2 separate regions of the Homo sapiens genome follow, and region 1 is linked to region 2. A link means that fine-mapping ties the variant in region 2 to the expression of a gene that starts in the linked region. Tissue or cell type: whole blood. Region 2 holds a variant in brackets; the other region holds the start of a gene. All regions are shown on one strand. Distances are between the middles of the regions. Region 1 holds the start of AMT (aminomethyltransferase). Region 2 overlaps RHOA (ras homolog family member A).

Region 1 (2,864 bases), 27 kb before region 2:
CAGGGCCTGAGCATAAGAACTGGGACCCTTCTAGGCAGGGTGCAGTGGCTCACGCCTGTAATCCCAGCACTTTGGGAGGCCCAGGCAGGCGGATCACCTGAGGTCAGGAGTTCAAGACCAGCCTGACCAACCTGGAGAAACCCCGTCTCTACTAAAAATACAAAAAATTAGCTGGGCGTGGTGGTAGGCACCTGTAATCCCAGCTACTTGGGAGGCTGAGGCAGGAGAATCTCTTGAACCCGGGAAGTGGAGGTTGCGGACCTGAGATCATGCCATTGCACTCCAGCCTGGGCAAGAAGAGCGAAACTCCATCTTAAACAAACAAACAAAAAAAAAAGAACTGGGACCCTTCTGCCATCTGACATAGCCCAAAGCACATCTCTATCCTTTCTCCCAGTTGCCCCTCTCCTTTTTTGTTGTTTTTTTTGAGGTTGAGTTTTGCTCTTGTTGCCCAGGCTGGAGTGCAATAGTGCAATCTTGGCTAACTGCAACCTCCGCCTCCCAGGTTCAAGCAATTCTCCTGCCTCAGTCTCCCGAGTAGCTGGGATTACAGTCATGCATCACCATGCCTGGCTAATTTTGTATTTGTAGTAGAGATGGGGTTTCTCCATGTTGGTCAGGCTGGTCTCAAACACCTGACCTCAGGTGATCTGCCTGCCTTGGCCTTCCAAAGTGCTGGGATTACAGGCATGAGCCACCGCGCCCGCCCTGCCCCTTTCCAAGAGATATGCTCAGCATAATGAGAGATCAACCGTGGTGGGGAGTGGGTCCAAGTAAGGGTTCTCATTGTTGCCTTTTAAGAGGCCTAAGTCCTGCATTAACTCAGTCCAACCATTAAGTGATGCAGGCTGCTCTTCCCTCATGTGAGAAAAACCTGTTTCCCTCTGGTTCTTCCTGGCTTTGCACCTGGTGGCTATTACAAAGCAGTACTGCAGTATGTCTTGGACCTGGAAAGTTGGACATGTGTGTGGCTCAACAGTTTTCTCGGGGGAGTTCAGTGACCTTTTGGTGGCCACCCTCTGTTCTCACCTGTGAGTTCTTGCAGGTGGCGACTTCATCTGCAAGGTCACTTACATAGCCCCACTCAGCTGCTTCGGAAAGCGTGACGAAGCAGTAGTCCTCAGTGTGTGTGTAAGTGAAGAGGACCTTGTGGTAGCAGGGACCATGCTTCATTCGTGGCTGTGTCCCCATCTGAGGGCCTGGTATGCAGTAAGATCAATAAATACTTGTGGAATGCATGACTGCTGGCTGCCTGTGTCTGCCTGGTGGGAGAGCTGTGGAACTAGGGGTCCACATGAGGACAGACTACTGTGGTGCTGCCTACCTGCCAGGCTGGCCCACCTTCCCCACCCCCACTTGACCTTACTCTCTTGAGGTCCTAAAGGTATGATTCAGACCTTTCAGCCCTTTCCAGAACTTTGACCCTCTGGAGACAGGGCGGTTCTGCAGGGGGCGGTCTAGCCCCTAGCTTTGTTCTGGGCAGCCCAATCAGCTCTGGATTGCCCGAGCTGCCCTGAAGAGTCAGCCGAAAGAGCTGGAGGCTTCTTCCCTGTGGTTGCGGGTTCCTGCATTCTCTGCTCTAAATCCCAGCCTGCCCTTGGGGCTGCCCACGCCCCCTTCAGATCCTTTGCTCCGGAGAGAGACCTGTCCGAGCAGAGGCCTGGACTACATCTCCCGGCGTGCCTGGCAGTGTGGTGGCCTCTGTGCGCCGTCTGCACTCGTTGCAGGCGACGATGCAGAGGGCTGTAAGTGTGGTGGCCCGTCTGGGCTTTCGCCTGCAGGCATTCCCCCCGGCCTTGTGTCGTCCACTTAGTTGCGCACAGGTGGGATAGAGGGTGCTGATCTTGGAGGGTGGGGGAGGGAAGCGGCTGGGGGCTAGGGCCCTGGTGGCACTAAGCCCAGCCGCCCACAGGAGGTGCTCCGCAGGACACCGCTCTATGACTTCCACCTGGCCCACGGCGGGAAAATGGTGGCGTTTGCGGGTTGGAGTCTGCCAGTGCAGTACCGGGACAGTCACACTGACTCGCACCTGCACACACGCCAGCACTGCTCGCTCTTTGACGTGTCTCATATGCTGCAGGTGAGCCAGGGGAGCACACTGGCCATCTGATCAGGCCTTCCTCCCTGTTTACAGTGGTCCACTCCTTGGCTTTGTTTGCTGTGAACTGGATTCCAAGGACAGCCTTCTCAGAAGAGCTAGAGGTCATGGGGGTGTCATGGATAGGTCAATGGCCCCAAGGAAATGAGCTCAGAGGGTCTCATCATCTCATCCTTCTAGCTTGCCCCCATTAAATGGTGTGCCTTAATGTCCCGGGTTTTCCAGGGCTGACACCCACTCTCATGTATTGGGCTGGATGTTGGTTTGAAAAGGGGTTATTTCAGGAAGGTGCTAGGTCCTGTCCAGTTCCCTGGCAGTCCCCCCACACAGAGTGACTGGGGGAGGTCAGGAAATCAGAAGGTGGTCCTTTGCCACGTGTAGAACCAAAAGACTGGTTAGTCACTTTGGGTGGGCTGGACTGCACTGTGGATGGCAGGGAGGATGCATCCTTGCTTAGTAGCCTTTTGGATTGTAGCTGTTGCAATGGCCTGAGGCTTTCAATCTCTTCCCCAGACCAAGATACTTGGTAGTGACCGGGTGAAGCTGATGGAGAGTCTAGTGGTTGGAGACATTGCAGAGCTAAGACCAAACCAGGTGGGCCCTTTTATTTCTGCTCTATGAGTTTTCTTAGTCATGAGCCAGCAAATGGGCTGAGTCCCTACCTCAGGCTTAGGGGCACAGAGATGAGTCAAACACAGCTTCTCAGGGCTTGCAGTCTTGGACAGAATCCCTGAGTCATTTCCAGAGACACAGACATTTGTAGGGA
Region 2 (2,903 bases):
GCAGCCATGTGACTATGAAGGGGAAAGCTATTGAGGCAGATAAGCAGGCAGTCTCTGCCATACTTTCAACGCTTATTTTTTTTAAAAAAACAAAAACCAACTCTTTTGGTAACAATTTTACTGAGATATAATTCATATATCACACCATTCATTTGAAATGAACAGTTTGGTGGGTTTTAGTATATTCACAGAGTTTTACGTGTATCACTACAGTCAATTTTAGAACATTATTATCACCTCAAAAAGAAACCCTATGTTCTTCAACTGTCATCTTCAATCTCCCTATCACCACGCCCAGCCTTAGGTAACCACTAATCTACTTTGTGTCTCTATAGATTTGCCTATTCTGGATATTTCGTGTAATGGAATCATATATTGTCTTTTGTGACTGGCTTCTTTCATTTATGCAATGTTTTAAAGGTTCATCCATGTTGTAACATTTATTTTCTGACTTTTTTTTTTTTTTTTTTTGAGACAGGATTTTGCTCTGTCACCCAGGCTGGAGTGCAGTGTCTCGATCACTACTCACTGCCACTTTGCCCTCCTGGGCCCAAGCGATCCTGCCACCTCAGCCTGCAGAGTAGGTGGGACCACAGGTATATGCTACCACGCCTGGGTAATATTTTTATTTTTTGTAGAGACAAGCTCTCACCATGTTGACCAGGCCAGTCTTGAACTCCTGGGCTCAAGTGATCCTCCCACCTCAGCCTCCCAAAGTGCTGGGATTATAGGCATGAGCCACCAAGCCCAGGCTGACTACTTTAAAAAAATTTTTTTTAGTAAAGATGTGGTCTCACTATGTTGCCCGGGCTGGTGTTGAACTCGTGCTTAAGCAGTTCTCCCACCTCAGCCTCCCAGAGTGCTGATAACTGCACCCGGCCTGACTTTTTTTGTGTGTGATGTTTTGCTCTTGTTGCCCAGTCTGGAGAGCAGTGGTACGATTTTGGCTCACTGACACCTCCACCTCCCAGGTTCAAGCGATTCTCCTGCCTCAGCCTCCCGAGTAGCTGGGATTACAGACGTGTGCCATCATGTCCGGCTAATTTTTGTATTTTTAGTAGAGGTAAGGTTTCACTATGTTGGCCAGGCTGGTCTCGAACTGCTGACCTCGTGATCCGCCCACCTTGGCTTCCAAAGTACTGGGATTACAGGTGCGAGCCACCGCGCCCAACTAATTTTTTGTATTTTTAGTAGAGTCAGGGTCTCACCATGTTGGCCAGGCTGGTCTCTAACTCCTGATCTCAAATGATCCATCCTCCTCAGCCTCCCAAAGTGCTGGGATTACAGGCGTGAGCCACCAGGCCTGGCCCCGGGCTGACTTCTTGAAAGAACATTTTCCACCACATATCTCAGTGCCCACGTTTTCTCAATTCACTGCCATCTACTCTTGCCTGTGGCTATATGAAAAGGTTTTCTCCTGTTGCTGGACACCTCCTCATAGACCTGTGTTCTTTTTGCAAGCATGTAGTTTGGACTCTTTTCTTGTAATGTGTTCTTCCTTTTTTCTTGGTGTTCATTATCATCATACCTTTTTGAGCATTTCAGTTATTTCTGGCTTCTTCATGACCACCACTTCCTTTGTGTTGGTGGCACTCTTTGGCTAGATCACTGCCCCTCTCCATTCCATACACTGGAAGACTATGCTGTTTTTAC[C/T]TGTAATAACAGCTTACCTGGGCACTGATATTTTTCAGCTGACTGTGGGGAAATGTTTGTGAGGTTTGGAAAACGCCTCCTTAGATTGTGCCCATTCCACCTCCCCTTCCATTAGGGTTCTTTCTTTTGGGCACCCTCATACCCTTGCCATAGTTTTCTCATCCCTATCCAGTTAACCACTCAATCACTTTTCGTGCCCTGCCAAGGCTCTGTTTCTTCCTCTTCTTTTTTTTTGGAGACAGAGTCTCGCTCTGTTGCCCAGGCTAGAGTGCAGTGGTGTGATCTTGGCTCACTGCAACCTCCGCCTCCTGGGTTCAAGCGATTCTCCTACCTCAGCCTCCCGAGTAGCTGAAATTATAGGCGCCCACCACCACGCCTGGCTAATTTTTGTATTTTTAGTAGAGATGGGGTTTCACCATGTTGGCTAGGCTGGTCTTGAACTCCTGACCTCAGGTGATCTGCACCCCTCTCAGTCTCCCAAAGTGCCGGGATTACAGGTGTGAACAGCCGTGCCCGGCCAGGCTTTGTTTCTCTATTAATTACAGACCTGATTGTGCTGGTCCAGTGGCTTTCCCTTCCTTACAGAATAGAATGCAGATTGCTCTGCATGACATACCATATCCTCTGGTCTAACCATCGCCCCATCTTTCCACCCTTATTTTCAAAAATCTCCTTTCTGAATTCTTTTTTTTTTTTTGAGACGGAGTCTTGCACTGTCGTCCAGGCTGGAGTGCCGTGGTGCGATCTCGGCTCACTGCAAGCTCCGCCTCCCGGGTTCACGTCATTCTCCTGCCTCAGCCTCCCGAGTAGCTGGGACTACAGGTGCCTGCCACCACACCCGGCTGTTTTTTTTTGTATTTTTAGTAGAGACATGATTTCACCGTGTTAGCCAAGATGGTCTCGATCTCCTGACCTCGTGATCTGCCCGCCTCGGCCTCCCAAAGTGCTGGGATTACAAGCGTGAGCCACCGCGCCCGACCGCCAAATTCTTGTGTTACTGGTCATTGAGGTTATTTGCTCAAGCTGTTTCCTCACCTTAGAAAGTATTCCTGAACCATCGTTACCGCTCTTTCCAGGGGACTTGTCCTCCTTCTTCAAGGTCCATCCAGGTCAGATATCATCTTATCTGAAGCTCTCTGGCAGAATCACTTGCCTTTTCTCTGAGTTCATACCAGAGAAGATAAGCTTTTGTTACAGCACTTAATTACATTGTGCTGTTTTCCCTGAGTGTTTTCCAGATAAAGCTGTAT

Evidence for each region. PIP is the estimated chance that this variant, and not a neighbour inherited with it, causes the effect. A credible set is the group of variants that fine-mapping cannot tell apart.
Region 1: AMT starts here. The variant in region 2 is the best candidate, but not a certain one, in a credible set for the expression of AMT in whole blood (TOPMed, PIP 0.86).

What each region holds. Positions count from the first base shown.
Region 1 is chr3:49,421,320-49,424,183 of GRCh38, reverse strand. It overlaps AMT (aminomethyltransferase), which reads left to right and starts at 1,711. Exons shown (of 9, transcript NM_000481.4): 1 at 1,711-1,823; 2 at 1,913-2,080; 3 at 2,612-2,692. The coding sequence starts at 1,734. It overlaps NICN1 (nicolin 1, tubulin polyglutamylase complex subunit), which reads left to right. Exons shown (of 6, transcript NM_032316.3): 6 at 1-1,851. RefSeq lists enhancers at 1,330-2,083, 2,084-2,836.
Region 2 is chr3:49,394,698-49,397,600 of GRCh38, reverse strand. All of the region lies in intron 1 of RHOA (ras homolog family member A), which reads left to right. Among named protein-coding and RNA genes, the nearest start is that of RHOA, 16 kb to the left of the region's middle. The variant C/T (reference allele first, on the strand shown) is at 1,654.